Homo sapiens: one gene and its partners. The protein of the gene in region 1 interacts with the protein of each later gene in a biochemical or structural test. Each region holds a gene or a part of one and is shown in the gene's direction. Other genes may lie near its edges.

Region 1 (3,500 bases):
GGACCCTGATAGCACCTACCTCCTGGGTGACTGAGGATCAGAGGAGGGGGCGCCTATATAGAGCCAGCCCTCCCTCCGCAGTGCTTGATCCACTCAGTGTGGCGCTCAGCCCCCTCGGGGAATTTTGGTGCCTCCTCCCAGGCTCTTGGGGCCCAGAGGAGGTGGTCCCACCCTCCCCTCCCCTCCTTGACACCACCTTCCAGGAGAGAAAGCCCCCCCCTTCCCCCTTCTTGTCCATCCTGTTGCCAGGTCCAGCAGTGTCCCCAGCCTCACATCCTGGGCAGGACACCCCTGGAGAGCAGGGGCGCTTGTTCTCTCAGTTTCTTTCCTGGAGCCAGGCCCTGTCTAGCCCCAGGAGGTGCCCAGTTGCCAGTCATTGTATTTGGTGGAGCATGCACCTCCTCCTTCCTCCCTCTCATGGGTTAGTGGGTTCTGAGGACCAAACTCCCAGCATCCCAGTGGGCAGCAGGTAGGGACCTGCTGCCATGCTGCCCCCAACAGGGAAGTTGTGAGTGAGCCCTGCCTTCTGTCTTGGATAGGCTGACTGCCACCTTGGCACAGGCCTCAGCAGTGCCGGTAGGAGGGGAGGCCTGGAGTGTGGTTTTTCTTCCTCCCATGCCTGACCCACTTTACTGAATCTGTTCACATCTTCCTTGCCAGAATTACAGGTTTTTTTTGTTTGTTTTGTTTTTGTTTTTTTTTTTTTTTTTTTTGCTCAGATGAGGAACTGAGGTCCAAAGAAAGGAAGGGACTAACCTCACCCCATGGGTTCTGATCCAGTCTTGCCCTCAGGCCTCCAGGTTCCCAGAATAGTGTTGTTTACCTGTCCAGCCCCAGGTGGGCTCGACCCACAGGTCAGAGGTCATGAGAAGCTGGATGAGACCACTGGGGATGTCCCTGTTTTCTCAGTATATCAGCCAAGGACCTGAAGAACATGCTGTCCCAGGTCAACTACCGGGTCCCCAACATGCGCTTCCTCCGAGAGCGGCTGACGGTAAGTGCCACCCAGGGCTGTCTGTAGATGGGGGCAGGGGAAGCCAAGAGCCCTTCAGCTGGGGGCCTGACTGCCTGACTGGCACTCCTGCTCTATACCATGCAGGACCTGGAGCAGCGCAGCGGGGACATCACCTACGGGCAGTTTGCTCAGCTGTACCGCAGCCTCATGTACAGCGCCCAGAAGACGGTGCATGAGCCACCTGCCCTCCCTCAACCCCTGCCCCTGCTCTTCCACCCCACACCCCAGCTCTGCCTGCCTCAGCCCTGCTGCCCTGCTTAGGGGCTTTTGGGTGCCATTTCTCCAGTTCTTCTCCTCTTGAGGCCTGCCCCCATCTGCTGCTCTAGCCTGCCTTCTTACTAGCCCATTTCCCACATGGCCTCCCAGGGGTCTTGCCCTGACCAGGTTCTGTTTCCTGCAGATGGACCTCCCCTTCTTGGAAGCCAGTACTCTGAGGTTTGGTTTGGAGTGGGGAGGTGGGGTTTTCCCTGGGCCCCCTTCATCTCTCCACTGGGCGATTCTTGATCCAGGTGGGAGGCAGTGGGAGTAGGGAACCATGCTGGACCATTCTGGGAAGCTGTGCTGGCTGGGAGTTGGGTTCTGCCTTCCGTGGGGCACCTTGTTGTCTGTTGACCATACTAGCTAGCTTACCTTCTCTCCCTGCAGGGCTGGGGAGCGGCCGGAGCTTTGCCGAGTGTCCCTTCCTGAGTTCCAGCAGTTCCTTCTTGACTACCAGGGGGTATGGCTGGGCTGACATTGGCCCAGGCTGGTAGGTTGTGGGGGGCTGGGCTCATCCCTGACTGGAGGCTTCTCTCATCCCCTGCCCTCCCTACCCCATCAGGAGCTGTGGGCTGTTGATCGCCTCCAGGTGCAGGAGTTCATGCTCAGCTTCCTCCGAGACCCCTTACGAGAGATCGAGGAGCCATACTTCTTCCTGGATGAGGTGAGCCCGATGTTTCACCCATTTTTTGTCAAGAGAATGAGTAGGGGTGACCAGGACCCCACCCGGGCTCCAGGAGCTAGACGCTCCTTAGGGATGCCACCTTGTTTCTACCTACTGTGCACCTTGCCCACCCCCAGTTGGGACAGAGCACTCTCTCTCCTACCCCCAACCTACCATCTTGGGTTGGACAGGGCAGGGACTCACTGTCTCTTCCCTTCCACATGTTTCTGGACAGTTTGTCACCTTCCTGTTCTCCAAAGAGAACAGTGTGTGGAACTCGCAGCTGGATGCAGTATGCCCGGACACCATGAACAACCCTCTTTCCCACTACTGGATCTCCTCCTCGCACAACACGTGAGTGTGGCTCCTTCAGGCCCACCCAGCTTCTTCCCCAGGAGGGCCCATCTGACCATACCTACCTGCCTCTCCTTGCCTATCCAGGTACCTGACCGGGGACCAGTTCTCCAGTGAGTCCTCCTTGGAAGCCTATGCTCGCTGCCTGCGGATGGGCTGTCGCTGCATTGAGTGTGCGTGGGGTCCAGGGCTGGGGGAGGGAAGATGGGAGGCCTGCCCGCTTGACCATGGTGATGTTGCTCCCCAGTGGACTGCTGGGACGGCCCGGATGGGATGCCAGTTATTTACCATGGGCACACCCTTACCACCAAGATCAAGTTCTCAGATGTCCTGCACACCATCAAGGAGCATGCCTTTGTGGCCTCAGAGTGAGTCGGAGGCTGGATGACCCAGGGGTTAACTTGGCTCCAGGTCTCTCGTTCTAGAGGGACAGAGGGCAGAAAGACTCCTCAAATGCCCTGTCCCCTCTCCCTCAGCCTTTCATCTTTGTCCTTCCTCTTGGCCTCTCCTCGTCACCTGCTCCCTGCTTGAGCTGTTGCTTCCCAAGTTACACTTTCTGTTTCCTACGTGTTGGGCCCACTCTCTTCTTCATGGGTCCTTTAGACTGTAGAACACATGCTCTTCTCATCTTCAGAAAACATGCCCTGGTTTCTTTAGGCCAGTGTCCTGCCAACTCCTTTGCCCTCACAGCCCAGAAGATTGTCTCTGTTCCCTGTGTCCCATTCCTTCAATTCTGTTTACTGCTTAAACTGTGGTCACTGGTCTCCCTTAGCTCACCAGGGCTCTAACAGCTAACTTTGGAGGCTTCTCCTCTCTCCTGGCCTCTTTGGTGTGAAACATTTTTCTTGCACTGCTGAGCAGCCTCCATAATTGGGCCAGCTCGGGACTGCATCAGTTGCCACCCTTTGGTTTCCACTGCTGCCACAGCTGTAGAACCCCTCTCTGCCCCACCAGTGGCTATGGCCTGCCTCTTTTCTGGGATAGTTTTTACAGACAAGAAGCCCCCAGGCCCTTGGCTTCCAACAGCTCACTGTGAGGGGCTACTTAGACCCAGAGAATTGCAGAATCTGTTTCACTGTGCTTGTCCCCCATCCCGCAGGTACCCAGTCATCCTGTCCATTGAGGACCACTGCAGCATTGCCCAGCAGAGAAACATGGCCCAATACTTCAAGAAGGTGCTGGGGGACACACTCCTCACCAAGCCCGTGG
Region 2 (3,389 bases), on another chromosome or scaffold:
AAGGCCAAGTACAAGACTCCCACATACCCCTACCTGCTTCCCAAGTCTACCAGCACGGCCAATCAGCTCCCCTTCACACTTCCAGGAGGGCAGTGCACCACCGTACAGGTGAGGCCCCCCACTTCAGCCAGCCCTCCCCTTTGTCTCCTTCAGCCTAACACCCCAACCCACTCTCCCTGGTGTGAGAGCTGCCCACACTCTCCTTTCCTGGGGTTAAGAAGCACATCACGGCCAGGCACGGTGGCTCACGCCTATAATCCCAGCACTTTGGAAGGCCAAGGCAGGCGGATCACAAGGTCCGGAGATCGAGACCATCCTGGCTAACATGGTGAAACCCCATCTCTACTAAAAATACAAAAAATTAGCCGGGCGTGGTGGTGCGTACCTGTAGTCCCAGCTACTAGGGAGGCTAAGGCAGGAGAATCGCTTGAACCCAGGAGGAGGATGTTGTAGTGAGCTGAGATCACGCCACTGCACTCCAGCCTGGGCAACAGAGTGAGACTCCATCTCAAAAATAAAATAAAAGGCCAGGCGCAGTGGCTTACGCCTGTAATCCCAGCACTTTGGGAGGCCGAGGCAGGCGGATCACGAGGTCCGGAGAGCAAGACCATCCTGGCTAACACCATGAAACCCTGTCTCTACTAAAAATACAAAAAATTAGCCGGGAGTGGTGGTGCGTACCTGTAGTCCCAGCTACTTAGGAGGCTGAGGCAGGAGAATGGCGTGAACCCAGGAGGAGGAGCTTGCAGTGAGCGGAGATCATGCCACTGCACTCCAGCCTAGGCAACAGAGCGAGACTCTGTCTTAAAAAAGAAAAGAAATGAAGCACATCGCATTCACCATTCCCTAGGTCTTGCGATCAGTGGACCGCTGGTCAGCAGGGACTCTGGAGAACTCCATCCTCAATGCCTACCTGCACACCATCAGGGAGAGCCAGCACTTCCTCTACATTGAGGTCTGACTGGGAGGAGGTGGGGGAGAGCATGGAAGGGGTGTCCCAGGAGAGAGACCTGGGGAATGAGTGGAGTCAGTCATTGAGGGCTGGTGGAGCAGAAGCAGACGCCTGGAGCCTGGGACCAAGGCTGGAGGCCGAGGACAGGGCCAGGGGCCAGGCTGCTGATGTCTGTCTCTGATTCTTGCCCCAGAATCAGTTCTTCATTAGCTGCTCAGATGGGCGGACGGTTCTGAACAAGGTGGGCGATGAGATTGTGGACAGAATCCTGAAGGCCCACAAGTAAGGTGGACTGTCAGGAAGGTGGGGACTGTGGGTGTGGTTTGAGCCCGGTTGAAGGGGGTGGGGTTTGAGGGACCAGTCGCACCTCTGACTCCACCCCCTCCCCAGACAGGGGTGGTGTTACCGAGTCTACGTGCTTTTGCCCTTACTCCCTGGCTTCGAGGGTGACATCTCCACGGGCGGTGGCAACTCCATCCAGGCCATTCTGCACTTTACTTACAGGTGACCCCCCAGGCGGACTCCAGCTCTCAGTGGCCCCATCCCACCCGTGTCCCCCTCCTGATTCTGTCCTGATCCCTTCCTGCTGGGCCTTAAAGAAGGGCCACCTCTCCTGACCTCCCCTCCCCTCTGCCAGCCTCCACTTCTCTCCCTCTTTCTTTTCTCTCAGGACCCTGTGTCGTGGGGAGTATTCAATCCTGCATCGCCTTAAAGCAGCCAGTGAGTGCTGGGGGCTGGGGGCTCAAGCCCTGGGCCCCTGGGAGAGGGAGATTGGGGCGCTGCAGGCCTGGGGGTGGGGGAAGGAGGCTGTCACTCCTGTGAGCCTCTGACGCTACGCAGACCATAGCTGGCCTTTCACTGCAGGGAGAAGGAGAGAGACCAGACTCTATGTAGGAAGAGTTTCTGGAGTGAGAGGAGGTGGGACAGGGCCCTGTGCACACAGAGCCACCTCTCACCTCACTTCCCCTCCTGTCACGCAGTGGGGACAGCATGGCGGGACTATATTTCCATCTGCGGGCTTCGTACACACGGAGAGCTGGGCGGGCACCCCGTCTCGGAGCTCATCTACATCCACAGCAAGGTGCTCATCGCAGATGACCGGACAGTCATCATTGGTCAGTGCCGGATCTAGTCCTCTGGCAGGGAGAGGGTGTGGGGACAGGCGAAGAGATGAGAGGCAGGATGACAGAGACTGCAGCTGAGGCTCGTGTAGGGGTGGAGGGTCCAAGAAGGAATGTTGCAGGCCAGTGCTTTGGTAGAGGGGATGGGGTACTGGGGAGAGTGCCCTGGGCCCAAGCACACAGTGTGCCCCGCATCCACCCCAGGTTCTGCAAACATCAATGACCGGAGCTTGCTGGGGAAGCGGGACAGTGAGCTGGCCGTGCTGATCGAGGACACAGAGACGGAACCATCCCTCATGAATGGGGCAGAGTATCAGGCGGGCAGGTTTGCCTTGAGTCTGCGGAAGCACTGCTTCGGGTAGAGCTGGGGCGGGATGCCACAGGGTGGGAGGGAGATGGGGGCGTCTGCCTTTTGAGCAGGACAAGAGGTAGCACCGCATAGGTACTCCCGGAGCCAGAGGTAGAGGCAGTACTAGATTCTCAATAGGCAAGGCTGGGCGCGGCAGCTCACGCCTCTAATCCCAGCACTTTGGGAGGCCAAGGCGGGTGGATTGCCTGAGGTCAGGATTTTGAGACCAGCCTGGCTAACATAGTGAAACCCGTCTCTACTAAAAATACAAAAAATCAGCTGGGTGTGGTGGCGGGCGCCTGTGATCCCAGCTACTAGGACTAATCAGTTTAGAGTATCAGTAAAGCAGGAACACCAAAAAACAAAAAGAGAAAAAAATCTTTTTTTTTTGAGACGGAGTTTTGCTCTTGTTGCCCAGGCTGGAGTGCAATGGCGAGATCTCAGCTCACTGCAACCTCTGCCCTGGGTTCAAGCGATTCTCCTGCCTCAGCCTCCCGAGTAGCTGGGATTACAGGCATGCGCCACCACGCCCAGCTAATTTTGTATTTTTAGTAGAGATGGGGTTTCGCCGTGTTGGTCAGGCTGGTCTCGAACTCCCGACCTCAGGTGATCCACCCACTTCAGCATTCCAAAGTGCTGGGATTACAGGCGTGAGCCACTGCACCTGGCCACGAAAAAGAAATCTTTTTTGTTGTTGTTGTTGTTGTTGTTGAGACACGGTTTCACTCTTGTCGCCCAGGCTGGAGTGCAATGGCACGATCCTGGCTCACTGCAACCTCCGCCTCCTGGGTTCAAGCAATTCTTCTGCCTCAGCCTCCGGAGTAGCTGGGATTACAGGCGCCCACCACCACGCCCAGCTAATTTTTGTATTTTTAGTAGAGACAGGGTTTCGCTGTGTTGGCCAGGCTGATCTTGAACTCCTGACCTCAGGCTTCGGCCTCCCAAAGTGCTGGGATTACAGGCATGA
Region 3 (3,500 bases), on another chromosome or scaffold:
AGTGATGTGATCTTGGCTCACTGCAACCTCCTCCTCCCTTGTTCAAGCAATTCTTCTGCCTCTCCCAAGTAGTTGGGATTACAGGCACCCCCCCCACCACGCCCGGCTAATTTTCTGTATTTTAAATAGAGACCGGGTTTCGCCATGTTGGCCAGGCTGGTCTTGAACTCCTGAGGTCAGGCCCGCCTCGGCCTCCCACAAGTGCTGGGATTACAGGCGTGAGCCACTGCACTGGGCCCAAGAATTCTTTATGTATTCTGCAAACAAGTCCCTTATCAGACACAAGATTTACAGATTATCTTCCACCATTCCGTGAATTGTTACTTAACTTTCATGATGGTGGCCTTTGAACAAGTTTTTAATTTTTATGACGTCCGATTTCTTTTGTTGCTTGTGCCTTTGGTGTCAATCCTAAGAAATCATTGCTAAATTCAAAGTTGTGAAAATTTGCCCCCTTAATTCTGAGTTTTGTCCTTTATATTTAGGGCTTTGTTCCATTTTGAGTAAACTTATGTGTATGGTGTGAATGGAGGGGTCTAAATATAGACTTTGGATGTAGATTAGCAGTTGCCCCAACATGATTTGTTCAAAAACTATTTTTTCCCCATTGAATGATCTTGGCAACCTTTAAAAGAGTCACTTATGGCTGGGTGTGGTGGCTCACACCTGTAATCCCGGCACTTTGAGAGGCTGAGGCAGGCGGATCATGACCAGGAGATTGAGACTATCCTGGCCAATTTGGTGAAACCCTGTCTCTACTAAAAATACAAATTTTAGCTGGGCATGGTAGCGTGTGCCTGTAGTCCCAGCTACTCAGGAGGCTGAGGCTGGAGAATTCGCTTGAACCTGGGAGGCAGAGGTTGCAGTGATCTGAGATTGCACCACTGCACTCCAGCCTGGCGACAGAGCGAGACTCCGCCTCAAAAAACAAAAAAATCACTGTTTCTGGACTGTTCTGTTGATGTGTCTATCCTTAACATGTAAGAACAGTACAACACTGTTCCTCTGTGGTTTTTATTTATTTATTTTTTTGAAATGAGTCTCACTGTCACCCAGGCTGTAGCACAGTGGCGTGATCTTGGCTCACTGCAACCTCCGCCTCCTGGTTCCTCCTGCTTCAGCTTCCTGAGTAGCTGGGATTACAGGCGCCCGCCACCATGCCCGGCTAATTTTTGTATTTTTAGTAGAGACTGGGTTTCCCCATTAGCCAGGCTGGTCTCAAACTCCTGACCTCAGGTGATCTGGCCGTCTCGGCCTCCTAAAAAGTGCCGGGATTACAAGCGTGAGCCACGGTGCCTTGGCCCCTTTGTAGGTCTTATAGCTGATTTTTTGAAATCAAGTGTGAGTTTTCTAGCTTTCTTCCTTTCCAGATTGCATTTGGCCTCTTTGGGTCCCTTAAGTGTCTTTTTTGTTTTTGTTTTTTGAGATAGGGTCTTGCTCTGTCACCCAGGCTGGAGTGCAGTGGCAGAATTACACAGTTACAGTTCACTGTCTCAAGCAGATCCTCCTGCCTTAGCTTTTCAAATAGCTAGGACTACAGGCGCACACCACCACGCCTGCTAATTAAAAATTTTTTTTGTAGAGAGGGTTCTCATTATGTTGCCTAGGCTGGTCTTGAACTAAAACGATCCTCCCACCTCAGCCTCCCAAAGTGTTAGGATTATAGGTGTGAGACACTGTGCCAGTTCTTGGGTTTGTTTATAAATTTTAGGATCTGTTTCTACAGAGAAACCAGCTTGGGGAGTCTTCTAACGATTGTATTTAACCTGTATATTCGGGGAGTGTTTCCATCTTGGCAATATCTGAACATGGAATGTTTCTATTTAGGTCTTTAATTTTTTTTTTTAACACAAATTCACTCTGAGTGTACAGTTTAATAGAACTATACATTACTTAAATATACATACATTATACAGTGGTATAGTGTGTATTTATGCAAAACTACTCATTGAGCAACTTCATTTCCCAGCCCCTAGCGATCACAATTATACCTTCTATTTCTTTGAGTTTGACTACTTTTAGATACTTAATGAATAGAATCATACAGTGTTTGTTCTTTTGTGGCTGGCTTATTTCACTTTGTTCAAGGTTCAGTCATGTAGCATGCAAGAGGATTTTCATTGTGTGTACATATACATTTTCATTTAGTCATTTAACACTTGGGTTGCTTTCACCTCTTGGCTGTTGTGAACAATGCTTCGATAAACATGGGTGCACAAATAATCACTTCAAGGTCCTGCTTTCAATTCTTGTGTCTACTCCCAAATTTTGAAAGTGCTTAATGTCTTGACATTTCATTTGTAGTGATGATGATGATGATTTTGATGATGAGGAAGCTGAAGAAAAAGCGCCAGTGAAGAAAGTGAGTAGATACAATGCTACAAGGTTGTTAAACTAACAATAGAAATGGTGATTTTTTAGTGCTATTTGCTTGTTTTGTAGTTAAGGGAAGCTGGTGTGGGAGATCATCTCATACTGAAAATTAGTCCTGAGGAGGATTACAGAAAACTTAAGAGTGGGGAATGGTCTGTTTTCTTTATCCATGTGGCCCTCCACCCAGTTTGTTAGTCTTGTGTAACCTTTTGTCCAAGTGGTTGCTGCTTTTTCCTTCCTTTTTTTTTTTTTTTTGAGACGGAGTCTCAATGTCACCCGGGCTGGAGTACAGTGGCGCGATCTCAGCTCACTGCAACTTCTGCCTCCCGGGTTGAAGCGATTCTCCTGCCTCAGCCTCCTGAGTAGCTGGAATTACAGACTCATGCCACCACACCCAGCTAATTTTTGCATTTTTAGTAGACCACCATGTCGGCCAGGCTGGTCTCGAACTCCTGACCTCGTGATCCACCTGCCTCGGCCTCCCAAAGTCCTGGGATTACAGGCATGAGCCACCACGCCAAGCCTGTGGTTGCTGCTTGTCTTACATGGCTTGGACAGCTTTGTTTGCACTGTTGTTGGGGTCAGGGACAGTGATTAAGATAAATTTCTAATTGCAGTCTATACGAGATACTCCAGCCAAAAATGCACAAAAGTCAAATCAGAATGGAAAAGACTCAAAACCATCATCAACACCAAGATCAAAAGTAAGTGGCTACATTTACACGTGGGTCTCATTGATCTAGTTGGGGAAAAAGATTCTACTGTGGAAGAATCTAGTGTGTCTGAAATTTGATAGGCCTTTATAGAACCCCTGTAATTGCTGTTTAAAAGTTAAAATCAGCTTGCTGCAGCCAGGCTCAGTGGCTCACTCCTGTAATCCCAGCACTTTGGGAGGGAGGCCAAGGTGGGTGGGATCACCTGAGGTCAGGAGTTTGAGACTAGCCCGGCCAACATCGTGAAACCCTGTCTTTACTAAAAACACAAAAATTAGCCAGGCATGGTGGTATGTGCCTGTAATTCCACCTACTCAGGAGGTGGAGACAGGAGAATTGCTTGAACCTGGGAGGTGGAGTGCAGTGAGATTGCACCACTGCACTCCAGCTTGGGCAAAAGAGCGAGACTCCGCC
Region 4 (3,500 bases), on another chromosome or scaffold:
TTTGTGCTGAAGATGATGAGGTATCTATTAATAAACTTGTGCTGCAGCCCTCCCTGTCATGACAGGGCAGCAGGTGGGTCAAGGATGTTGTCGTCATTACCACAAACAGCCTTTGAGGGTCTGCTTGTGGCCTCGGGTTGCCTGGATAGTTAGTGTTAGAGTGATTGTGTTGTTATGGTTGTCCCTACCTTAATGATGATAACTGGGGTTGCTCCAAGATATTGAGCCACTTGTTTAAGGTCATGCTGGCCCAAGGAGCTGAGCTAAGATTGAGTCCTCTGTGCAGTATGTCCCAGGACAGAGAAAGAGCACGTATTCCATGCCGTTGGTTCACTTAGATCATTTTCAGCAGTTATGATTGATTGATTGATTTAGAGGCGGGGTCTCGCTCTGTTGCCCAGGCTGGAGTTGAGTGGCACAATCTTGGCTCACTGCAACCTCCGCCTTCCAGGTTCAAGCAAATCTCCTGTCTCAGCCTCCCAAGTAGCTTGGACTACAGGCATACGCCCCCACGCCTGGGTGATTTTTGTATTTTTAGTAGAGACCGGGTTTCTCCGTGTTGGCCAGGCTTCTCTCAAACTTCTGACCTCTGGTGATCCACTCACCTTGGCCTCCCAAAGTGCTGGGATTACAGGTGTGAGCCACCACACCCAGCCTAGTTTTGGTTTTCAAACTAATATGACTTCCTTTTGTGAAGCTGCTGGAAGGCCCTGGAGGCTGGGCAGAGCTTTAGGCCACAGAGAAAATTTGAGCTAGTTGACACTCTCCTATCAGATACACACATAAATAACTTCACCTAGATCCTATTGGAATGAGAAGGACTGTGTGCCTTTGCCCTCGTTATCTAGTGTATAATTCTTGAGGGAAAAAACTGCCTCCAGAGCAAAACATTTTGTCTCTTCAGTCTCACTTTTTTCTTTTTGAGACAGGGTCTCGCTTTCTTGCCCAGTCTTGAGTGCAGTTGCAGATTCAGTTTACTGCTGCCTCGACCTCCTGGGCTCAAACAATCCTCCCATCTCAGTCCCCACCCAGTAGTTGGTACTACAGGCACACACTGCTGCGCTTGGTTAATTTTTATATTTTTTAGGCCGGGCATGGTGGCTCACGCCTGTAATCCCAGCACTTCGGGAGGCTGAGGTAGGCGGATCACCTGAGGTCAGGAGTTCGAGACCAGCCTGGCCAACATGGTGAAATCCTGTCGCTACTAAAAATACAAAACTTAGCCAAGTATGGTGGCATGTACCTGTAATCCCAGCTACTCAGGAGGCTGAGGCAGGAGAATTGCTTGAACCTGGGAGGCAGAGGTTGCAGTGAGCCGAGATCGCATCACTGCACTCCAGCCTAGGTGACAGAGTGAGACTCTTGTCTCAAAAAAAAAAAAAAAAAAAGTTTGAAAATTTATTCACCAAAAGTGGCGACAGTCAATTTATTCAAATTCTATGTACCTCAAACTCCAGGAAGGGGGTAGACTATTGGTATAATTTCACATATTCAGGAAATAACTACAGCACCTACTAACAGAACATCTATTCTAGGCCAGGCACTGTGGCTCACACCTGTAATCCCACCACTTTGGGAGGCCAAGGTGGGTGGATCCTGAGGTCAGGAGTTCAAGACCAGCCTGTCCAACATGGTGAATCCCTGTCTCTACTAAAAATACAAAAAAATCATCCGGGCGTGGTGGCGAGTGCCTGTAATCCCAGCTACTCGGGAGGCTGAGGCAGGAGAATTGCTTGAACCCGGGAGGCAGAGGTTGTAGTGAGCTGAGATTGCGCCACTGCGCTCCAGCCTGGGCGACAGAGCAAGAGTCCATCTAAAAAAAAAAAAAAAAAACTTCTGTTCTAGATGAGGGAAGACAGAATAGGCTCCCCTCAATGCCCCCAAAAAAGTAAATCAGAAAATAACAACAGTAAACCCAGTAACAGTAAATATTACAAATAACATTTGTAGAGGTGGGTCATGGTTGTATGCTGTTTTGTTTTATTTATTTTTATTTTTGTTTTTTTGAGACAGACTTTTGCTCTTGTCACGCAGGCTGGAGTGCAATGGTGCGATCTCAGCTCACTGCACTCCGCCTCCCGGGTTCAAGCACTTCTTCTGCCTCAGCCTCCCAAGTAGCTGGGATTACAGGCATGCACCACCATGCCTGACTAATTTTTGTATTATTAGTAGAGACAGGGTTTCAACATGTTGGCCAGACTGGTCTCAAACTCCTGATCCACCTGCCTCGGCCTCCCAAAGTGCTGAGATTACAGGCCTGATGAGCCACTGCACCTGGTCTATTTATTTTTATTTATTTATTTATTTATTTATTTTGAGACGGAGTCTCGCTCTGTCGCCCAGGCTGGAGGGCAGTGGCACGATCTTGGCTCACTGCAACCTCCACCTCCCTGGTTCAAGGAATTTCCCTGCCTCAGCCTCCCTAGTAGCTGGGATTACAGGTGTGCACCACCATGCCCAGTTAATTTTTTTGTTTTGTTTTGTTGTTTTTGAGACGGAGTTTCGCTCTTGTTGCCCAGGCTGGAGTGCAATGGCACGATCTCGGCTCACTGCAACTTCCGCCTCCCGGGTTCAAGCGATTCTCCAGCCTCAGCCTCTCAAGTAGCTGGGATTGCAGGCATGTGCCACCACGCCCAGCTAATTTTGTATTTTTAGTAGAGACGGGGTTTCTCCATGTTGGTTATGCTGGTCTCCCAACTCCCGACCTGAGGTGATCCACCCGCCCCGGCCTTCACAGTGCTGGGATTATAGGCATGAACCACTGCGCCTGGCAATCTTTTTGTATTTTTAATAGAGATGGGGTTTCACCATGTTGGCCAGACTGGTCTCGAACTCCTGACCTAACGCGATCCACCTGCCTCAGCCTCTCAAAGTTTTGGGATTATAGACGTGAGCCACTGCGCCCAGCCTATTTATTTGTTTTTAAGAGATGAAGTCTCACTTTGTCACCCTGGCTGGAGTGCAGTAGTAGCGTGATCATAGCTCACTGCTACCTTGAATCCTGGACTCCAGTGATCCTCCCACCTCAGCCTCTCAAGTAGGTGGGAATGCAGGCACATGTACCACTGTAAACTGCTAAGTTTTTGTATGTTTTTGTGGAGATGGGGTTTTTGACTTTTTTGATACAGAGTCTCACTCTGTTGCCCAGGCTGGAGTGAGTGTAGTATTGCGATCTCGACTCATCACAACCTCCACCTCCTGGGTTCAAGTGTTTCTTCTGCCTCAGCCTCCCAAGTAGCTGGGACTATAGGTGCACACCACTGCGCCCGGCTAATTTTAGTAATTTTAGTAGAGATGAGGTTTCGCCATGTTGGCCAGGCTGGTCTCGAACTCCTGACCTCTGGTGATCCACCCACCTAAGCCTCCCAAAGTGCTGGGATTACAGGCACGAGCCACCACGCTGTCTGGAGATGGGGTTTAGCCATGTTGCATAGGCTGTTCTTGAGCTCCTAGGCCCAAGCTGTCTACTTGCCTTAGCCTCTCAAAAGTGCTGGAATTAC
Region 5 (3,500 bases), on another chromosome or scaffold:
TAACAATTTTTGTTGTTTTCTCCAAGGTTTTATGAAGCTGCACTTTTTTTTGGTCTAAATTGCATATTCGAAATATTAATTATTTAGGAGCTTTGGCAGCCTACAGTTTTCCAACTGAAGCATCATGTTACAAAGGAACTGTAGGTGACTACTTACTCCAGTTCCTCAAATATTGTTGCTTACTATTTTAGCACTTTGTTACATTTTTAAAATTTCCCTGTTGGACATTCTATAATAGGCTATCTGGTTTCTTTTCTAACGATCACCAAGTGGGTACTTTGTTTTCGTATGTAAAATGAAGACGTTAGTATAGGTGGTTGATTTCTAAGGCCCTTTTCTGACTCCAAAATTCAATGAATGATTCCAAGAAATGGCCTGAACACCGTGTCTGTCTTTCTCTTTTCTCTTCCCCACCTTATTTATATTTGTATATAGAGTGGATGAGAAACCATATGATGCTGGGGCTGTTAGGATGAACTGGGTTTCCCCTGCTAATCACATTAAACTTTCTTTTTCTTTAGTAGCATGTACCTAAACAGCCAGTCAATTTGGCCTTGAATAGGCTGTTTTGGAAGAGATGGGCTGGTAGAGGATGCCTGAGCCAGCAGTCATCTTTATCTTGGGCTTTTTTCACTAGCAGAATGTATAACTCTATAAAGTAGATGCTCCCTCAAAACTCTAGTTGCATTAACTCTTCTAAGGATAGCAGTCATTTTAAACCCCTATTTATTTCTTGAATTTTTAAAGCTAACACTTATTTGATTAACAGAATGGCTTTATTCTTTTAAAAAAAGTTCCAGATTTTAACAGGGATACTAAACCCCTTATTTAAAATTGAGTCTACTTTACGTGACTTTTAAGAAACAAACCAAGTAATTACTTTGTTCTTTCCAAAAATGATCGAGACATTTCTAAGTCTACTTTAAATTTATTTAATATGGAAGTTGAAGGTGATGTGTTACCAAAAAATGGTTTCATATTGACCAAAATAATGTAATGTCCTCGAGGAAGGTTATGCAGCCTATTGAGATCTACACAGCAGAGTTATGGCTGATATTTGACCTGGCTTGGGCAGTTGGGCAAGACAAGAACAAATAACAGAGTAAGTAGCTTCTGTAGTGCTTTAAACTGATATGTGTATGTGGGTGGGGATAAGAATGGAGAAAAAGTGAGAGAAGCTATCTTGGCACGTGAATGTTAAATGCGAAGCCTGCTGGTGTTAGTAGAGGCCAGGCGTGTCTAATTCTTGGTTTGGATCTCACAGTTAGGGGTGTGTTGGGTATCAAGTAAATATCATCATTTTTCAGTGCATTTGTCATTGCAGGTAGGGGAGGAAGGGCATTTGAAATCATACCAGACTTTTTTTTAAGTAAAAATATATTACTGTGAGTAGTTAAAAGTATAGACCATCTGTGGCATTTGGTTTAAGCAATTTGGTAGAACCGAACAGTCCATTCTGCTCCATTGGCCTTCGTTTATAGGAGAGGCTTGTAAGAAATGACAAGATCTCCTGCCAGATGCTTTCCAGGATCACTGGTGGTTCCTCACACTCTTGGGTGCTGTGGAAATTGCATGCTGCTGATTAAATTGCTGGATTTTATACCAGATTGAGGGAGGGGAAGGAAATTGGAGGAATGGGGTATTTGAGGGAGGGCTTGAAAAGAAAGCCTCTGACTTAGCTCACGGGGCTGCAGGGGGGTTCATTAAGGAAACAGTTGCATTGAGTCTGCTGAAGATAGTGGACTAGATTTCCTGCATTGCCGCTGGGGCGGATGTGGGGAGATGTCAAGAATTCCTGGGGATTTCCCATCCATCTTGGTAAAGCTGGATGCCTGAAAGCTGTTTCTGATTGCTGCTCCTTTCCTCAATTTTGAGCTCTTTGAGGAACTTGATCTTGTCTCACAGATACACACACACGTTGTAAGAGCTAGATGGAACCTCATTGACCCAATCTACTCATGCCAGAGATGAGAAAACCGGCCCAGAGGAGGCCAGTGCTGTTTTTCAAGGTCAACAGCTGGCTAGCGGCAGGCCTAGGAACAGAACCTGATGTTCCTGCTACAGACAACATCTCTTCTTCACTGGTGTATTTCCTCTTCCCCAGACGGAAGACAGATGTTCAAATATTTATTGACTAACATTATTACAGTGCTAAAATTTCTTTCGAAATGACATCTTTTTAATATGAAGTTTTCTTCTATTTTCTTAACGCACATAAGGGGTTTAAACTAAGAATCAAAATGATGGCTGCTTAGTAGCATGCCAAGAGATTTGATGAGAAGATTAACTTTCCTTACGAGCACTTGGTATCCTTTTCCTGAACAGCTGTGGCTTACATACTTGTGGCTTATGGTACTAGCTTTGTCTTTCGCCACTTCTCTCCACACACACACTGGGTTCCAGCTACACAAACTCTACCCTAGTCAAACAAATTATTCCCCCTTCTTCAGAGGCGCCTTCACTTTCATCACTCTGTTCATGCTGCTCGTCTGCCTGCAAGACCTTTTCCCTCCCTCTGTGTCTCCTCCTCTCCTGCTGGCAAGATCCAGCCCAGTAATCACCATCTCTGGGAGCTCCTCCTTGTAGCTCCCAGACAGCACTTGCCATTTCTTCTGCTCTCCTGTAGCCCTGAGGTGTACTCCTCCTTCAGTAATTCTCACTTTGCATTGTCAGGATTTTATGTGTCTGTGTCCTTTCTCTTTGGTAGAGACCCCATGTCTTAGCTGTCCTTAGACCGCTGGCACCTAATATAAAGCCTAGTACAGAGACTCTCGGTAAGTGTTGGAACGAATGAGTAAATGAATGAATATGTGGCCACACTATCATTTCGCAGAAGCAATCTCAGACACAAATTTATTCCATGAGTTTATTCCAGTATAGTAATGTGCTCCTGCCTGTTCATTTGGCCTCATTTACAAGGGATTACTTAAAGTAACTGTTCTCAACAGATAATATTTGTCCTCTTCAGTGAGCGATTGAGATGTATGAGATCAGCTATGATTTTCAACTCTTTGAGAAACTGTCTCATGTCCTCCCCTCCTGTGTGGGCATGATGCTTCGCTGGGGCCTGTGAGCCACCAAAGCCAGGCTCTGGTCACTGCAGAAGTCCTGTGTTAGCCTCTGTTGGTGAGGTGCTAAGCACCTCAGCCTTTTCCTGCAGCGTGTTATACAATTTTTAGAGAGAACAGAGTCCTCAAATTTTAGGGTTTGACTTTCTTGCCCTCTCTTAAACCCAAGTCCTTGGGTGCTGGGCTGAGATGCATACCTGAATGACAGAGGTCTGGCCACAGTCAGAATCAACTCTGTTTTAATAGGGGCCTTGGTTACAGGACCACACTGGTCTGTCTAACTTCCTCTTTCTTTAGGATGAGGTTTCCTCAACCCTTCATATAAATGGGTTCCTGGCAGGACTACCCTGCTAGGTGCGAGACATGTTCTTAAAAATTGGAATCCCATGGCTTGGGCTCGAGCTGGTGCCTCCCTATCCTCACCCCCATCCC
Region 6 (3,500 bases), on another chromosome or scaffold:
CTTTTGCTTGGAAAAAAATTCAGCATTAGAGAGGATGTTTTTTAGAAATTCTAAAGGACTTTGTCTCATTTTCAATTATGCATTTTATTTAGATATATCTAGATATAGCCAAAGTCCCTTTATATGGCAATTATAAAGCCTTTGCTAACCAAAGGAATGGTTCTAAAATTCGTCTTCCTTGTATAATGGAAAATTATCAATATTGCCTTGGTATTGAAGAAAATGTATAGTAGCATTGAGGTGGTACTCTTATATACCTTAGTAGATAAACGATGAACAAGTTCAGTTCCCATTTCTTTTTTGCAGGTAACTCAGTCTTGCTTTTCATTCTATAAAAGTACATATAGCTTTCGTACATATTTAAGATACATCATTATATCTCCAAAATCATGGGGTTATTTTTCATTTGAGAAGAAAAATGTTAATAAAAGTTAAGTGGTGAAAAAGGTGTTAAATATATTTTCAAGAAAGCATCAATTCTCTTTCTTACAAGTGTTTACTGTAAGCACATCTATCGGTACAATGTTTTCTTTTTAATTTGAAATTCTCATATATATATATATAAAAGGGGGCTTTTTAGAAGAAGGTGTTATTTTTTTCTTCACAATATGTCTAAATAAATATCTGTTAGTATAACTGCAAATCGCTTGGAAATACTATAACTGTTCTGTTGTGATGAAATGACTCCAGTTATATCAGTATTCCTTTTTTTTGCTCTTAAACTCAACTGCTTTTATTTATTTTAATCATGTATGCATAGAAAGTGAAATTTTGTTGAAAATCAAGGCACTTACTGCTTTATATATATATTTTCATTTAGTCACTGGAAATGTGTCTTAATTAAGAAATTACATTAGAATATTTATCAGAGCATGAACTTTGTGGAAGATTTATGCATTTTTTATTCTAACCTGAACACAGTAAGTTTGCATTGGCTGATTTTTAGAGTTTGCATTTATTTGATGGAAAATCGTATTTCCTCCTCAAAGTGGATTCAAATATGTAGTATTCATGAGCTTTCATCCCTTTGGTTTTTAAATAGAAGTACTATTTATCATCTGTCTTATGCATTCACCCTTTCTGTTACTATAGATTCTCTCTTTACATCTTAGTATTTATTGAGTTTACATGTGTTAATATATATTTTCCCTTCCGCCACTAAGTATATTGTTTTTGTTTGTGTCTTTCCCAGTAACCTGCCACTCAGCCACTGCAGGAGTCCTCTGAGCCAGTTTTCATTCTTTCTGATAAATCTGATATGGCTGGTTGGCCAGACAATCACAAGCCATTCCATTGCTCAGATTTATTCCTGAAAGAAAATAAAAAGGCATCGATCCAAGATCACTGGCACATCTTAAAAGCCTTGACTCCAAGGCCAAACCTTTCCACAGAGAAGTCCCTCTTACCCTTTTTCTTTCTTTCTTTTCCCCTCTTGACCAAGGAAGGAAGGTGGACCACTGCTATTTAAAAAATGCTAGTGAGGCAATGAATTGTGCTCTTTCTAAGTACTCTTGGAAGCTTGATTAGAGCCACCTTGAGATTAATGGCTATGCACAGTGCATATTTTAGACAATAAATTGAATTAGGATGGCTTAAACATTGCAATGCTTTAAAGCGGTATTATTTTTGTGTTATATCAAGCTGGTTATTAGGAAAAGTTAACATGTTCTTAAAAATAGCCATAAGTTTTGGCTTTATATTATAGTGTTCTGCTACTGTTGGATATCCATGTATAGTTTGTAAGTGCCTAAAACATAAATGAAATAAATGATCAAAACGGATTTTCTGATACCTACAAACTTGTTGGTACTTGCTCTGTTTAATTTTACCAGTTTTGAGAGATACTGCTTTGTTGAGATGCTAATATTTGTACTGAAATTAGTTTTTAGAGGTTCAAGCCTACATCTGTTCTACAGAAATTAATCACCAAGCATATTCCACTGTTATCTTTTACAGTGATCTACTGAGTATCCTGTGCAGGGTAGAATTTAATCATATTAACAACTTTTCTCCAGGTTATATCATTTTAGAGATGCTCTATTATGTTACATTTCACCATATGGAACCAAATTACATGTTTTATCTAATACTCATTTTCTGAAGTATTATAAATATTGGCAGTCAGAGTTAAAACCTTACTTTTTATGATTTCTAATACAGCTATTGACTGGAGTTTTCAGTTTATAATGAAAAATAACCCCTTTTTATGAAAAAATTGTAGGTCAATGTTTCCTGAAACTGTATGTCTTCAACATAATTTGAGGGAGACTTTAATTGCCTATTTTGTGGTTAAATGGGACATGGGACGTAGTCACATTGTTTAAATCAGGATTTCTACCTTGCAGAGACAGTTCTCGAGTTTCTTAATACCTTCAGCAACTCACTGCATCTCTTTGTGACTTGGCTTCTCTGCCTGGGAGAGAAATGCATATAATGCACTATTTCTGCACTGTACAGTTTTATGAAAATAACTTTAAAGTCTTTGATATTGAGATACATTCCACTAAATTGTTTTTATAGATGTAATCTAAATTGCACATGTAATCTAAAACATGTATACCTATATTAAGAAACATAATGTAAACTTTCTAGCAAACTGTCTCTATCAAAAGAGTACCTGTCTAATGAAATAAAGAGCTTATTAACTCAAAGGCATTTGTATTTGAGGGCAATTTCCCCAAAATATTATTTTCAGAATTGTTCTATGGTCTCTTTTATTTTTTCTGAGTTGTTGGTTATTCTGAAATATTTATTAAATAAATTGCCGTATTTTCCAATTCTGTAATCAAGATTTAAGGCCACTTCCTTGTTTTCACACTTGATACTTAAACTAGTGCTTTATATTTATACAAACTTTTCAAGAGAGGAAAGCTGTCCCTTTTACAATATGGAGTTGAAATATGTGGATGTTTTGTTAACTAATTCTAAAGAGGCTATGTAGCATGTAATAATTGTTTTAGAGTTATTTCCATTTTGAATTGTTCTGCAGGCCTGTCACTTTGCACAACTCCAGGGGGCAGCAGCCACATAGACTTTAATAGGAATAGTGCATGCCTTAGCTGTGGGTAGTACAGCAACAGCCTTGCTATTGTGTGATGCTAGCGAATAAAGCACTAAAAGTTAGGAGGTTTGGATTCTGGTCATACAATCATTTGTTATGTGATCTGGGATTAGACTACTTGCTTCTGTCTCAATCGCCTTACCTTTATTAGTGTAGCTAAAAGTCATGCCTAAGCTATTAACATCTTGAATGTTTTTAATAATTCAATTAATTAGAAATGGAAAGTTTAGACTTTTTAGAAAAAAAGTTTATTGGTTTTTAATTATTTTTGTAAGTGGACCTCTTTTTTGTTGTTGTTGTTCCAAGTGAAGTCATAGGCATAGCCCTAGTTTCTAAAACAGCTGAAAGGGTAAAATAAAAAGAGAGCTGTGTAGTTAAGCTGCAGGGAGGAGGCAGCTTTGAGGCCCCTGCCGTTGACATTCCCTCACTTTCCTTTCAC
Region 7 (3,500 bases), on another chromosome or scaffold:
GAGAAACAATATCACATATGAGATGATTTGGTTAACTGATGCAAAGAGTGGGACTTGGGCTAGGTGAGTTTTGACAGAGGTAAGGGAGTTGCATTGCCTGAGGAAGAGAGTTAATATGGTCAGTATGAAGCTAAATAGAGAGGAAGAAAGAAATGGGATGTGGGCCCTATAGGATACTTTATCTATCTTATGATTTTGCCCTGACTAGAGCTGGATTGCCCCAGTACTTTTGGAATCTCACTGGACTCTGTTCACTTAGTCCCCAGCAGGTACATCTTTTGATGCCTTCACCCCAAGCCTGGTAGCACAAGCCCTAGCTGAGAAAACCTTAACATCTATTTGTTGGCTGGTGGAAATTCCACTTGCTCTGAGACCCTCCCGTGCTCCTTCTCCCAGGTGCTCAGGCCCCACACCTTCCTCCGACTGGCAGGTCCAGGTTGGAGGAAGCTGAGCTGACTCAGAGCTCTGCACATGGGCTCAGGGCTGAGCGGGACTCACTGCTGGATCAGATTGTCTCCTTCACCATCCTCTGTACTTGTCTCCTTGACCATCCTCTGTTCTTCCTGAGGCTGCAGTGGAGTTAATCATCTGCCCTCTGCCCTCCCTTTCAGAGTTACTAGTTCACCTCATCCGTTCTTAACCACAGGAAGGTGGCCCCCAAAGCTGCTGAGCAGTAGCAACAGCAGTGGCAGGGGCCCGGGGGCCTTCCTGGACTGTGGCCTCTTTCCTCTAAACAATTTTCACTTGTTGGGTCCTCCTCTATGCCTCACTAAATGTGTGAGAACTTGTGTTGAAGTTATGTTTTCGTAGTAGCATTTCATCTCCCCTATCTGGTGTGTGTACCCCTCTGGGACAGAAACTGAGGTCTTTCTGTATCAGTCACAATACCCTGGACATAGTGACTTGTCTACTTGCCTTTTCACCGTATCTGCTTTGCACCCCTGCCCTGGCACCCACCCCTTCCAGGCCGTCCATGGAAACTCATTCCAACCATCTTCCTCCTTCCCACACTGGACTGTTGGGGGCTGCAGGAGAAAATTCAGCAACAAAGAGCAGCTACAGATTCGTAATCTCCAACCCCAGCTGGACTCTCAGTGTCCTGGGAATCCTCATTTCTGGCCCACAGCTTCTCCTGTTCCCCAAAAGGTGGGAGAATTCCACACCTTCGTCATCTCTTTCAAGGCCCTGTTCCACTATCTCAGCCTCCACAAACCAACAACCTCCTTCTTTAAGAAAACAGAAGCACAAGTTAGGGATTCCACCAACCTTGCCAACAAGTCTCCAGTGTCAATGTACTTCATCTACTCCTGTAAATGGCCACATTTGCCTCTGCTGAGGGCAAGAGTGTTCTTGCCCTGTCCTTGACCAATACTCCCCTGTGTGCTCAGGGCACCAGAGCTTCTTTCAGAAGTCACCTGGGACCTGCTGTCTGTGAAGACATCCCTCATCTTTCTTCAGCTGCTCCTTTTCTGTGGGCTTCCTACCTTTAGTACAGTTTCCTTCCAGTTGAAAAATCAAAACAACACCTGGTGTTCTCTCTAGCTCCTTTTTATTTGCAGACAAACCAGTCTTAAATGTATAAACTAATATAATATTACATAAAAATAAAATATAACGGCCTAATTTTTAAAAAGACCCCAAAGGCAGTATAGCATGAGGACTGTAGATCACACATTTCATTCTTTAAGTATTTAGAAGTCTATGGCTGGGAGTGGTGGCTCACGCCAGAACTTTGGGAGGCTGAGACGGGTGGATTACTTGAGGTCAGGAGTTCAAGACCAGCCTGGCCAATATGGCGAAACCCTGTCTCTACTAAAAATACAAAAAAAAAAAAAAGAATAGCTGGGGGTGGTGGCAGGCACCTGTAGTCCCAGTTACTCATGAGGCTGAGACAGGAGAATCACTTGAACCTGGGAGGCAGAGATTGCAGTGAGCCGAGATCATGCCACTGCACACCAGTCTGGGTGACAGAGCGAGACTCTGTCTTAAAACAAACAAACAAACAAAGAAGTCTAGACAATAACTTAACCATTTTCCTGTGTGATTCCTATTCAGTTTTATAATAGCAGAGAACAACCTTCTTCTACATAGCGCTCTACATTCTGATCTACTGGTGGATTATATGGGAGTTTACGTTATTTTTCATTACACCGTATATTTATATTTAAGTACCTTTTAATACTTGTGCTACCTCTCACAATTTTATAAAAGATAAAAATAAAGTGAAACCACCACTAAACACCTGAAAATTAAACTCATGTTCCATCACCCCATTCTCCAAACCTGCTCCATCTTTACCAGACCCATAAGCCACACGTGTGTTTTGTGTTCCCTTAACCATGCTACTGCTGGGTCCATAATACCCACCTTCCCTGTTCCTTTCTGCATACACCAGGCAGGCCTTGGCTTTTTCTTTCAATGGCAGCTCCCACCCACCGCCTCTGGGCAGCCACTCCTAACTCTGCAGGGCAGAGGAAAACATGCTTTCCTTATGCTTGCCTCACACCCTGGGCACACCTCCATAGCACATTCCATATTGCATTTCAGTTGGCTGTTTTAGGTCTATCTTCCTTTTTCACTTTTTTTTTTTTTTTTTTTTTTTTTTAGGCAGGGTCTTGCTCTGTCACCCAGGCTGGGGTGCAGTGGTGCAGTCATGGCTCACTGCAACCCCTGCCTCCCAGGCTTTTCTGATATTTAGCTAAGAGTTGGGTTTAGCTGAGATGAGTGAGGAAATCTACAAATTCACTTGCTATGGTAATGTTTCCACAATGGGCAAGTCATATTTTGCTTTTATCAAAGTACATCTTAGTTAATAGTCAGAACAGTTGAGTGAGAGGTAGTCATTACTCTTTTTCTGCTTTTTTACCAAGATACAACTCACAGCTGTGTGCACAAAATTTAAATCAACAGCTTGATGAACTTTTATATGTGTAAGTACATATCAAAACTACCCACATCAAGATGTAACACATTTCTAGCACCCAGTCATTCCTTTTTGGCCCTTCAAGTTGATAACCCCCCTCCTGCAAGGGTAATCACATTCTAACCTCTCTCACCATATATTAGTTTTTCCAGATTTTAAACTTTATATCAGTGAAATAATTCACTATGTACTTTTTGGAGTCTAGCTTCATTAATACTCATCATTGTGGTGAGATCCATCCACATTATTGCCAGGAAAAGTAGCTTTTCTTTTTCATTGCTGTGTAATATTCCTTATAAGACTATAACACGATTTATTTGCTCATCTAATCGTGATAGACATTTGGGTTTTTTCTCATTTTGAGTTATTATGACTAAAGCCATTATTAACACTCTTGTACATATTTTTAGTGGATATAAACACCAGATTTTCTTTTTTTTTGAGACGGAGTTTCACTCTTGTTGCCCAGGCTGGAGTGCAATGGCATGATCTTGGCTCACTGCAACCTCCGCCTCTCAGATTTAAGTGATTCTCCTGCTTCAGTCTTCCAAGTAGCTGGGATTACAGGTGTGCACTG

What was found.
Region 2: the proteins of PLCG1 (region 1) and PLD2 form a complex in vitro, tested with the Homo sapiens proteins (one study listed by BioGRID).
Region 3: the proteins of PLCG1 (region 1) and NPM1 form a complex in vitro, tested with the Homo sapiens proteins (one study listed by BioGRID).
Region 4: the proteins of PLCG1 (region 1) and RHOA form a complex in vitro, tested with the Homo sapiens proteins (one study listed by BioGRID).
Region 5: the proteins of PLCG1 (region 1) and FLT1 form a complex in vitro, tested with the Homo sapiens proteins (one study listed by BioGRID).
Region 6: the proteins of PLCG1 (region 1) and ERBB4 form a complex in vitro, tested with the Homo sapiens proteins (one large-scale study listed by BioGRID).
Region 7: the proteins of PLCG1 (region 1) and CD244 interact in a biophysical measurement, tested with the Homo sapiens proteins (one study listed by IntAct).

Annotation. Positions count from the first base shown.
Region 1 is NC_000020.11:41,161,543-41,165,042, forward strand, and holds part of PLCG1 (1-phosphatidylinositol 4,5-bisphosphate phosphodiesterase gamma-1), read left to right. Parts: intron 1-909; coding exon 910-994; intron 995-1,099; coding exon 1,100-1,183; intron 1,184-1,415; coding exon 1,416-1,450; intron 1,451-1,660; coding exon 1,661-1,733; intron 1,734-1,835; coding exon 1,836-1,937; intron 1,938-2,172; coding exon 2,173-2,291; intron 2,292-2,378; coding exon 2,379-2,464; intron 2,465-2,538; coding exon 2,539-2,659; intron 2,660-3,390; coding exon 3,391-3,500. UniProt on the Homo sapiens protein: Mediates the production of the second messenger molecules diacylglycerol (DAG) and inositol 1,4,5-trisphosphate (IP3). Plays an important role in the regulation of intracellular signaling cascades.
Region 2 is NC_000017.11:4,817,152-4,820,540, forward strand, and holds part of PLD2 (phospholipase D2), read left to right. Parts: coding exon 1-108; intron 109-850; coding exon 851-955; intron 956-1,145; coding exon 1,146-1,234; intron 1,235-1,342; coding exon 1,343-1,456; intron 1,457-1,622; coding exon 1,623-1,672; intron 1,673-1,932; coding exon 1,933-2,067; intron 2,068-2,277; coding exon 2,278-2,431; intron 2,432-3,389.
Region 3 is NC_000005.10:171,397,849-171,401,348, forward strand, and holds part of NPM1 (nucleophosmin), read left to right. Parts: intron 1-2,304; coding exon 2,305-2,362; intron 2,363-2,990; coding exon 2,991-3,077; intron 3,078-3,500. UniProt on the Homo sapiens protein: Involved in diverse cellular processes such as ribosome biogenesis, centrosome duplication, protein chaperoning, histone assembly, cell proliferation, and regulation of tumor suppressors p53/TP53 and ARF.
Region 4 is NC_000003.12:49,363,477-49,366,976, reverse strand, and holds part of RHOA (transforming protein RhoA isoform 1 precursor), read left to right. Parts: intron 1-3,500. UniProt on the Homo sapiens protein: Small GTPase which cycles between an active GTP-bound and an inactive GDP-bound state.
Region 5 is NC_000013.11:28,488,629-28,492,128, reverse strand, and holds part of FLT1 (vascular endothelial growth factor receptor 1 isoform 1 precursor), read left to right. Parts: intron 1-3,500. UniProt on the Homo sapiens protein: Tyrosine-protein kinase that acts as a cell-surface receptor for VEGFA, VEGFB and PGF, and plays an essential role in the development of embryonic vasculature, the regulation of angiogenesis, cell survival, cell migration, macrophage function, chemotaxis, and cancer cell invasion.
Region 6 is NC_000002.12:212,532,303-212,535,802, reverse strand, and holds part of ERBB4 (receptor tyrosine-protein kinase erbB-4 isoform JM-a/CYT-1 precursor), read left to right. Parts: intron 1-3,500. UniProt on the Homo sapiens protein: Tyrosine-protein kinase that plays an essential role as cell surface receptor for neuregulins and EGF family members and regulates development of the heart, the central nervous system and the mammary gland, gene transcription, cell proliferation, differentiation, migration and apoptosis.
Region 7 is NC_000001.11:160,852,888-160,856,387, reverse strand, and holds part of CD244 (natural killer cell receptor 2B4 isoform 1 precursor), read left to right. Parts: intron 1-3,500. UniProt on the Homo sapiens protein: Heterophilic receptor of the signaling lymphocytic activation molecule (SLAM) family; its ligand is CD48.